Homo sapiens: one gene and its partners. The protein of the gene in region 1 interacts with the protein of each later gene in a pairwise test. Each region holds a gene or a part of one and is shown in the gene's direction. Other genes may lie near its edges. The genes, in order: TCEANC, C1QTNF2 and FAM217B.

Region 1 (3,654 bases):
TTAATGTATTTATGTATAAACAACCAAAAAGCACTTTGCTCTTCATTTTATATGTTCTTTTATTGACCTTTTCTTCATATTTCTTTAAAAAATTTTAATTGTGATAAAATATACAAAACATAAAATTTACTGTGTTAAGCCCTTTTTTTTTTTTTTTTTTGACAGAGTCTCGCTCTGTCGCCAGGTTGGAGTGCAGTGGCATGATCTCGGCTCACCGCAAACTCTGCCTCCCGGGTTCAAGCAATTCTCCTGCCTCGGCCTTCCGAGTAGCTGGGACTACAGGTATGCGCCACTACATCCAGCTAACTTTTTGTATTTTTGGTGGAGACAAGGTTTCACCATGTTGGCCAGGATAGACTCGATCTCTTGACCTCATGATCCACCCACCTTGGCCTCCCAAAGTGCTGGGATTGCAGGTGTGAGCCACCACGCCCAGCCTGTCTTAAGCCTTTTTAAGTATACAGTTCAGTAGTGTTATGTACATTCTCGTTCCAGAGGGGAGGTGGGTAGAAGGTGATTGATTCATTGCTCATACCATTTTTCAGTAGGTATATCTTAAGTGCATATAGTTTATCATGAAATTGCGTTAGACCAATAACTTTTCTGATTATGAAAGCAATACATGCTCATCACAGAAAATACAGAAGAGGAAAATAACAAATGAAAATTACCTAAAATCTTACCATTCAGAAAATGCCCCTCTTTAAAATTTTGTGTATCTCTTTTCAGTCTTTTCACATGTAATTCTTAAATAAAATTTGGATCAAATTCTATTTTTAAATAACACCTTTATTCAGATGTAATTCACGCACCATACAGTTCACCTAAAGTGTACAATTCAGTGTTTTTTAGTATACTCAGTTGTATAACCCATCACCACAAATAAATCTTGAGAAGATTTATGTGTGCCACCACCTCCCAAGAAAATCCCTGAACTTTATCAGCTGCTCCTCCTCCTTCACCCCACTGCCCTTCTGCCCTACCCTACCTAGTCAACAACTGATCTATTTTCTGTCTCTATAGATTTGCCTGTTTTGGACATTTCATGTAAATAAAATCATACAATATGTGGACTTTTCTGTCTGGCTGCTTCTGCTCAGCATAATGTTTTCAAGGTTCATCCATGTTGTAACTGTATCAATACTTCATTCCTTTTCATGGCAGAATAATATTCTGTTGTGTGGATAAATCACATTTTATTTATCCATTCATCAGTTGATGGACATTTCGATTATTTCCCATTTTTGGCTATTGTGAATAATACTGCTATGAACATTTGTATACAAGTTTTTGTGTGGACATATGTTTTCATTTCTCTTGGATCTGCTGGGTCATATGATAACTGGTTTATTCATTTATTTATTATTATTTTTTTTTAGACAGAGTCTTGCTGTGTTGCCCAGGCTGGAGTGCAGTGGCACGATCTTGGCTCACTGCAAACTCCGCCTTCCAGGTTCATGCCATTCTCCTGCTTCAGCCTCCCAAGTAGCTAGGACTACAGGTGCCCGCCACCACACCCGGCTAATTTTTTGTATTTTTAGTAGAGATGGGGTTTCACCATGTTAGCCAGGATGGTCTCGATCTCCTGACCTCGTGATCTGCCTGCCTCGGCCTCCCAAAGTGCTGGGATTACAGGGTGAGTCACCATGCCCGGCCCATATGTTAACTGTTTAGTCTTTTATATAGTTTTACATCTTGATTGTTTTTCACCTAACTTTATGACCATTTTTCCATGTCGTTAAATATTATCTAAATACATGATTTTTAAATGGTTATATTACTGTATCCTAGGAGTGTGCCATATTTTTAACCATTCTCCATTTAACCATTTGAGGGCCTTCTAATTTCTCCTTAGAAGAAAATTCTTACATATGCAGTCTCCACATCTCTCATTTCCTTAAAGTAAATTTATGGAAGTAGAATTACTAAAAGGTCATTATGTTTTATGTCACTTGTCATATGGTGTCTGGGAAGACTGCGTGAATTCTCTCTCTAAACACTTCAGTGTTCTTAGCCTGTGTATGTTCGGTGGTGATTATTTAATATCAAGTGCTATAAAACAGAGCCCATGGATTTTTGAAAAGACACAGTCCCTGCCATCAAGATGCTTATGTTCACATTTAGACCAGACAGATAAATATAGATCCAAGGGTATTATATAGACAAGATTATGTACATTATGTGGAGGGAAAAAATAGACTGCATAGATAAAAGTAAACATTTGCCTGCCTAGGATGAAATTCACACAGACATAATCATTGAGCAACTCTTTACACTTAAAAATTTTTTAAAAATTAACAAAACCAAAATGTAAGAACCAGTTAGTCTAAAGTCATAAATCATCTGGATCATTGAGTCTGAACCTTTCCCTTGTTCAGAAGACTCCTAAGGCAGCACAGTGTAGCCTGTTGGCTTTTGGGACCCGCAGACGTATCTCTAGCTGCTTTTCAACCTGTGCTGTCTCACATTTTCCTTAGATTGCTTGAGACATTAGCAAACCCTTTCTGTCTTGTTTCTCTTTTATTTTCAGAAGAGTACCACTTTAAAGATTATGAAATGAGCAAGTAGTTCAGTTATATAGCTGACTCTGGGGAAAAATTGTCTAGCACTGTTCAGCATTGCCATATTGATGCTGACACCGGCATGATTTCACCTCCAACATGACCACCGGATTCCGCCCAAATGGATTGACTAATCTAGAAAGATCATTGATTTGTAAAATTGGAGGTGGAAAAGCTATAGCAGATCCTCCGGCAAGCCTCTTAAGCAGATGTTATGTAGAGGCTCTGCAATGCTGTTTGTTTGTTTTTCACTCGTAGGAATTAAACTCTTGAGAGTAAACCATACCGTCACCTTAAAGATTCCATTTTCTAGCGTGTCGCATACATTTGTATTACATGACTCTTTCGGAAAACATTGCCTAGGTAACTGACAGAAAGTGCTATTTTAGTATCCAGAAGCTGCGACTAGCAACGGCAAACTTAAGAAAACTGAAACCTCTTTTTTCTTTGCAGCTGTAAAGATGTCTGACAAGAACCAGATAGCTGCCAGAGCTTCTCTTATTGAGCAACTGATGTCCAAAAGGAATTTTGAGGATCTTGGCAACCACCTTACTGAGCTAGAAACAATTTATGTGACTAAGGAGCATCTCCAGGAGACAGATGTGGTCAGAGCTGTGTACAGAGTCCTCAAAAACTGCCCCTCTGTGGCTTTGAAAAAGAAAGCCAAGTGTTTGCTATCAAAGTGGAAAGCTGTTTATAAGCAGACTCACTCCAAAGCGAGGAACAGCCCTAAATTATTTCCTGTGAGGGGTAATAAAGAAGAAAATTCAGGACCTTCTCATGACCCAAGTCAGAATGAGACACTGGGCATCTGCAGCTCGAATTCTCTGTCTTCCCAAGACGTTGCAAAACTCAGTGAAATGATTGTGCCTGAAAATAGAGCCATTCAATTGAAACCTAAGGAAGAGCATTTTGGGGATGGTGACCCTGAATCCACTGGCAAGAGATCGAGTGAGTTGCTGGATCCCACAACACCCATGAGAACTAAATGCATAGAGCTTCTTTACGCAGCTTTAACTAGTTCTTCCACAGATCAACCCAAAGCTGATTTGTGGCAAAACTTTGCAAGAGAAATTGAAGAGCATGTTTTTAC
Region 2 (3,340 bases), on another chromosome or scaffold:
CATCCACAGAGCAAATCTCAGAACAGCCAATTCTCCTTGGCCACATGCGTATCCTGGACCAATTCCCTTGACCAAGGAGGTGAGGTGCCTCCATTTGCAGGGCAGGCTCATGGACCCACCCCTGCGTGTGTGTGAGTGGGTGGTGGGGGCAGTCAGTCATTGTGACTGACAGCCCCGCTAGGACCGTATGAAATGAAATGGTGAAGGGCAACTCCCCAAAGGAAGGGATGCCAGGCAGACGGCGAGCAGAATGGATATACTCTACAGACCTTTCCGTTGTGACATTCCTTATATCTCCAAACTTTCACCCCAGCAACCAAGCACTTTTCAGTGTCAGCAGCATCCCTAAGCCTACATTTTAAGCAGTAGAGAAATATAATAATTTTTATTTGTATGGCATTTTAATATTGACAAAGCACTTTTGAACATGTTGCCCATCTGACCATCCATATCGTGTGCCGGAGGGATTCTTATTTTCCCCATGTTACAGATGAGGATACTGAGAGTCAGAGTGATTCAGTTGATAGCAAAATGTCATCCTCGCAAGAACGTGAACTTTGGAAACAAACCTGGACACTGATTTTGACAAACTACTTAACTTCTCTCCAAACCATGGTTTCCTCATCTCTAAAATATGGATAATAATAGCACCTGTCTCACAAGGTTGTGGTAAAGATGAAATAAAACAATGTATGAAGGACCAGTCTCAGCATAGACATACAATAAATGTTAGGCACCCTGTAATTGACTTATTGAGCTCACATAGCATGCAGATAGCTGACTCCAAATCCAGGTCTTTTCCTACCACACCAAACTAATTCCTTCAAAGGTACCTCCTCCCCAGGAGATTAGTATAAAAGTAACTATCATAGCTTTAACTGGGGTGGGTCTTCCAGCGTGCTGGGCACTGGTATCATGATATCCAATTTCCTGACCACGGCGGCAGACTCAGGTCTGGACATGTGCTCCAAGCAGGCCAGCTAGAGTTTTCCCTGAGATTTGCCTATGGATCCTGAGGGACAGAGTCTCTGCTGTTGACTTCCCCAAATAGATAAAGCTTACCAGGAAGTTCTACCATGTACTGGGGCTGCCTTTGGCCATCTGTTCTGCTGTGTGTTGAGTCTCTGCAGAGAAGGAAGCCACCACACCAAGGAAGGCAGTGTTGGGAGAGTCCCAGCGCATGTAACTCAAACAAAGCTTGTCACCCTGGGGCCAATTCAGGATAACATCCAACCACCCGCCATCACCACACATACAAATTCACCTCCAGAAAAGTCTTTCAAGAGTAAAGTCAGCTTTTCCCAAAGTCTCTCAAAAAAGGTAAAGAAGAGGAAAGCACATTATATAATACATGGTAGGACCTCCTGGTAAGCTTTTTTATCTATTTGTCTCCCGCCAAAAACCCCAAGTCAAAATGACTTGGAGGCTGCGTGGTGGCTCATGCCTGTAATTTCAGCAGTTTGGGAGGCCAAGGCAAGAGTACTGGGAGGCCAGGAGTTTGAGACCAGACTGGGCAACATAGGGAGACACCATTTCTACAAAAAATTTTAAAATTAACTAAGTGTGGTGGTGTGTGCCTGAAGTCCCAGCTACTCAGGAGGCTGAGGCAGGAAGATTACTCAAGCCCAAGAGTTTGAGGTTACAGTGAGCTATGATCGCGCCACTGCACTCCAGCCTGCGTAACAGCGTGAGACTCTATCTTTAAAAAAAAAAAAAAAAAGATTCTGTCTCTATTCCTCTTCTCTTGGCCCCTTTTCCCACCTTTTGTTTATTTTCATTTTTTCAAGAAATAGCTTTGTGACTTTTCTGAGTTTTATTTTTTCCCATTCTTTTTGTTTATTTTTAATTATATGAGTAATATACAAATACAGTCTCATTGTAATATATTCAAACAATACACATAAAGCAAAAGTCCTCCTTACTTACTACCCCTTCTCATCCTTCCCTCACCCTCCAGAGGTAACCACTATTAATTGGTTAGGTATGTATCTTTCCTGGCCTTTTTCTATATATTTACATATGTATTTAATAATACCAGGCATTGTCAGGCACTTAACATAAGCACTCTGTTCCTGAAAATCAAGTGTTCAGTAACAAAATGCAATTTGGAAACCTATTTCCGAATTATGTAAAATAGGAAAAATTCAGATGCATTACAGATTAACTCAAAACTCTAAAACACAGTGAAATGCCTACATACAAATGTATAAGAAACAAAGTAACTTGTTAGGATGTAAAATGCCTAAAACTTTACTTCCTTGACCCAGTTCATATGGTTCTAACAACCTTGTGTCGAGTGAACTCAAGTCATTATCCATATAGGTTTTGCTTAAAATGTTGTATTGAGTTGAGGGGACATAAACTAAATTGATTTTATGCAATCAGTAGCCAAAAATGTTGGATTGAGAGAAATGTGCATTTTATGAAACATTGGAGTATGAAACATCAAAAAGCCTTCTAAAGGAAAACACAACTGGGGGAATTGTTCTGCAGGGAATGCCAGCTAGTATTTAGGAATGTTTGCTATAGGCCAAGCACTCTTCTATGCGTTTAAATGGGTGTAGAAATATTTAGCACTGTGGGCCAGGTGTGGTGGCTCACGCCTGTAATCCCAGCACTTTGGGAGGCCGAGGTGGGCAGATCACGAGGTCAGGAGTTTAAGACCATCCTGGCTAACACGGTGAAACCCCATCTCTACTAAATATACAAAAAATTAGCCGGGCGTGGTGGCAGGTGCCTGTAGTCCCAGCTACTCAGGAGGCTGAGGCAGAAGAATGGTGTGAACCTGGGAGGCGGAGCTTGCAGTGAGCGGAGATCGCGCCACTGTGCTCCAGCCTGGGCGACAGAGCAAGATTCCGTCTCAAAAAAAAAAAAAAAAAATTGGCATTGTGGATTCCATTCCTTTTGTTTTTCTAATTTTTATTTTTTAGAGACAAGGTCTTACTCTGTTGCCCAGGCTGGAATGCAGTGACACAATCATAGCTCACTGTAACCTGGAACTCGTGGGCTCAAGGGATCCTGTCACCTCAGCCTCCCAAGTAGATGGGGCTAAAGGCATATGCCACCATGCCTGACTAATTTTTGTATTTTTTGTAGAGACTGTCTGGCTACATTGCCCAGGCTGGTCTCAAACTCCTGGCCTCAAGCAATCCTCCAGTCCCAGCTTCCCAAAGTGCTGGGATTATAGACGCGAGCCACCTTGCCCGGCCTGCCTTCCTTTTAACACAAAGGGTCTGGCCACCTGCTCTTTCCTCTTAGTGTATGTTAGAGAAGGTTTCATAGAGCACACGTAACTCTACTTTTTTTTTTAACTCCTGCATAGAAATCCACAGTATAGATG
Region 3 (3,754 bases), on another chromosome or scaffold:
CCAGGGGACCTTGCAGCAGAAAATTAGGTCAGAGGACTTGGAGGGTGGTGAAGAACAACCAGATAGATGTGAGAGCCCAGCAGGGAAATGACAGGAGGCGCAGCTTAGGTGTGGAGGCTCCAGGTGGCCGGTCCCCGCGCGGCTCAGATGAAGTGGATCCAGCTCTCTTCGCACTCCCCGCGAGGCATGTGCAGCGCGTGGTTGCGACATGTGAGGCTGTAGTCTCGGTGGTCGTTGTTGTCCCAGTACTCGGCACCCGCCACTTGGTAGCGCACCGCGAAGTGCACGCGGGAGCCGAGCTCCAGCAGGAAGGGCGGTACTGGAAAGCCGAAGGTGAAAACGTCCTCCGTGCCCTCGGGGCCTGCGGGCCCGCGCCACCGCGCCACCGCCTCGTGGGTACTGCGCCAGCCCGAGAAAGTGTAGCGCACAGCCACCTGCTTCTCGAAGGCCACGTTGCACACGCGCACCGTACCGCTGATGCCAAGGTCCGAGCAAGTGACACGCTCCAGGCACACGAGCTGCCGCTGCAGGCGCTCGCCAAAGTCGGCGGCCTCGACGGGCGGCGGGAAATCGGGCACCAGGCAATGCAGGGTGAACTCCAGGTCCTGGCTGCTGCAGCACAGGTCCGAGTTGATTGCGAGCCGCGACAGCACGTGCAGCGGCACGGACGGGTCGTCTCCCGCGTTGAACACCTTGACCTGTGCCAGCTCCAAGCCCAGGGCGTCGGCGAAGCGCACGCGGAGCTTCTGGCTGCAGCCCGGCCGACACGCAGCGCCCGGCGCGCCCGCGGCCTTCTGGCGGCGCTCGGGGGAGCTGGGCAGTGAGCGCGCCCGCCGCAGGATGATGGGCCGCAGGCGGGGGTCGCAGCCCGACGGCGCTGGCGTTGGCGGCGGCGCGCGGCCCGGGCTCCCAGGGGGCCTACAGGCCCGCGGCTCCAGGGCCACGCCGCCGTCCAGGTCCGACAGGCAGCTGAGGCTCCGGGGGCCGAGCTTCCGGGATCCCAGGGCGCTAGGCAGGACCGCGGAGCTCGGGCCTCTGGACATGGCCCCGCCGGCCGTCGGAAGATGAGGCAGGGATGAGAGACGACCTCCCGACCCCGCGACAGCTCCCTCCGTGCTCAGAAGCCGCAGAGAGTCCACCGTATCTGCAACCTGCGGGGGACCTCTCGGGCCCGGTGCGCCCTACCCTTGGTTCGCCACCTTGCTCCTCGAGTCCTTGTCCAGGTCCTCCGCTTCTTGCGGTTAAAGAAATTGTAAGAGTGGGGAGTTTTTCTCTAGTGGAAGCTTTCAGAGGCCTCCCGGGAGCGCAGGGTAGCGCCTCTTTTTTCTTCTTGCTTCCTTGGAGGTTCTTACAAGAAGGCTGCGTTCCGGGAGCGGCCCCTCCCACTTTCCCGGTCCGCGGCGTTACTTACAAGGCTGCAACTTGACCGGGTGCAACTTCCTAGCGAGCCTCCGCCCCGCCCCTCGTGACGCCGCCTGCAGGCGGGCCCCCGCCGGCCTCAGCTCAGCCAGGGAGCTCAGCGGAGCTGCGCGCCTCCGCCTCCAGCTCCCCTGCCGCAGCGCGCCGCAGCCGGGCGTCCCCGCGCGGGCGCCGGAGAGGAAGGAAGGCTGGCAGCCTCGTCACGTGTCCGCTGCAGTCGCGAAACAGGTCTGATCAATTTCTGTTTACGTCTGCCTGGATTGCGCGCCTATCGATCATAGACTTTGTCTGCACAAACGGAGGACAAGGAAAATGCATGCTGCGTGTCCTTAGATTTCTGGGTTGTGGATGGGGGGAGCGGTGGTGCAAAAACCGGCCTTGCCAGGAGCTGGTCTCAGGCTAATTTTAAACATCGAGGCCAGCCCACACTTTGGACAGGTTCACTGCAACCTGGACCCTTGGTCAGACCGAGGGAGCCTCACTGCGTAGAGGAGCAGCGTCATGTCCACATCACCCAGAATGCTTTGCCGCACCGAATGGCCAGCAGATTCCCTTGAGGGTGGGGAGGGGAGGTGCTGCTGTTGTCTTCCTGGACTCCGCGCCAGAGAGGAAGACAGGGGAACAAGAGTTATTACCCGCTGATGACTTCTGCAGCTGCCCTTAATCAGCCTCTGGCGCTTGGGGAGCATATTTGTAGCCAGAATCTCCGACTTTTAGCTTTGTTTCCAAGCAAGCCAGAAACACCAGCAAGGCCTGGAGCTTGTTTTCTGCCTATTTAGAACCCTGCAGGCATTCGTGTCTCTCACCCGGTAGCTTTGAGCACAAAACCCCACAGCCTTTGGTGTAAAGCATACCAGGTGAAATGAAGTAGAAAAGATGCAAGTGCACTTTCCAGAGAGCAGTTTGGGGCCAGCCATTCCATTAAGAAGGTTCCTTTTTATTGTCCAGAGGGACAAAGCAGAAAGAAAACCAGACTAATGAAAGGGGGTTGATTCAAGAACATTCGTTGCATCTAAAATGAGTCAAGGCTGTTGATTGTGGTATAATTCATGAAATGTGAGAGAATGATTTTATTTATCATTGGATGTAAGCTAACTAAAAAGGCTTACATGATTAATGTGGGAAAAATACAGGAAAGTTTCAGGAAGAAAATAAAAATCTTCTATAATCATCTCTTTTATTTTACAGAGACAGGTGATACGGGAAAGAGAAGTATCCAATTTCCATTCAGTGCACTTTTAATAGGCCACTCAAAATGAGAGGGGAATAACAGCAATATGTGGTATAGGTCAACAATGCTTCATAAAGAGATGATATATAATATGTAATATGTATGAATATATGGAAAGTCTTATAATGGATTGATGTGATAGAGAAGGCCGAAAAATTGAATGGGAACGTTCCTCCTAGAGTTTAAGCTCCTTCTGAACAGGGACGTGCATAATCATTGCCATTTTTCTGGGTACTCCTGTAATTATTTGTTGCATGAATGAATGATTGGGCAATGCAATGATTGAACGCTGTAATAAGACCTGACCTTATTTAGCCTTCCAGATTTCTTCAACATATTATTTCCAAGGAAGATTATACCTGTGTGTGAACAGGGAGAGAGAGAGAGAGATGGAATCCATTCACAGTATTTATAGTAGTGTGATCCTGTGATCCTGTCTCTAATATCTACTGTAATAAGCAGAAAAGACAAAGCTGTAAGCATAAGACAATGTCTCCCTTCCCCAGTATTTCATAACCTAGAGTGCAAACCACTATATGATCACAGCCTTAATATTTCAATATTATACAAGTATTAAAAAACAAGTGAAAAACCAACCCGATACTGGTGGTAGGACCATTTGCAATCAATAGTTACTGACAGTATTCTGTTGCTTCTAGTTCCGGTGGTGAGGAGACCTTTCCAAATATAAGAGGAATAAAGAAGTCACCTCCCCAGCTGTCATCATCTTCCAGCAGATTGAGCAAGAATATTTTGAGCACTACAGGAAAGGTAATGTAAACTTAGAAGAAAAATCTGACTTAGATTTATTCTGGGATTTTTGTTTGTTTGCTTGCTTGTTTCTTGTGTACATGTTCACAGTGTTTATTACTGCATCCCTGTTTTTAGACAGTCCATCAAACCCGAGATGATGATCAGCCACGTGATTTTTTCAAGAAGAGGAATAGGGTGAATGAATCTCATCAGAAAAGCAGGTAAATAGTTTTAGTATAATTGCTTTATCTTGCAAAAGACTCATTATCTCTGTTGTCCAGATTGAATATGTGGAGTGGGGAAAAAAGTATGTCTATAGATAAGAAATATACATTTATAATTTTTTTCTAG

What was found.
Region 2: the proteins of TCEANC (region 1) and C1QTNF2 interact in binary tests that used the Homo sapiens proteins (3 or more experiments, as listed by UniProt).
Region 3: the proteins of TCEANC (region 1) and FAM217B interact in binary tests that used the Homo sapiens proteins (3 or more experiments, as listed by UniProt).

The regions. Positions count from the first base shown.
Region 1 is NC_000023.11:13,659,487-13,663,140, forward strand, and holds part of TCEANC (transcription elongation factor A N-terminal and central domain-containing protein), read left to right. Parts: intron 1-165; 5' UTR 166-200; coding exon of another isoform or gene 201-282; intron 283-1,544; 5' UTR 1,545-1,636; intron 1,637-3,014; coding exon of another isoform or gene 3,015-3,022; coding exon 3,023-3,654.
Region 2 is NC_000005.10:160,350,291-160,353,630, reverse strand, and holds part of C1QTNF2 (complement C1q tumor necrosis factor-related protein 2 isoform 1 precursor), read left to right. Parts: intron 1-3,340. UniProt on the Homo sapiens protein: Involved in the regulation of lipid metabolism in adipose tissue and liver.
Region 3 is NC_000020.11:59,938,889-59,942,642, forward strand, and holds the start of FAM217B (protein FAM217B), read left to right. Parts: upstream 1-1,500; 5' UTR 1,501-1,647; intron 1,648-3,309; 5' UTR 3,310-3,421; intron 3,422-3,538; 5' UTR 3,539-3,624; intron 3,625-3,754. Other genes in the region: PPP1R3D (protein phosphatase 1 regulatory subunit 3D), read right to left, coding at 144-1,043.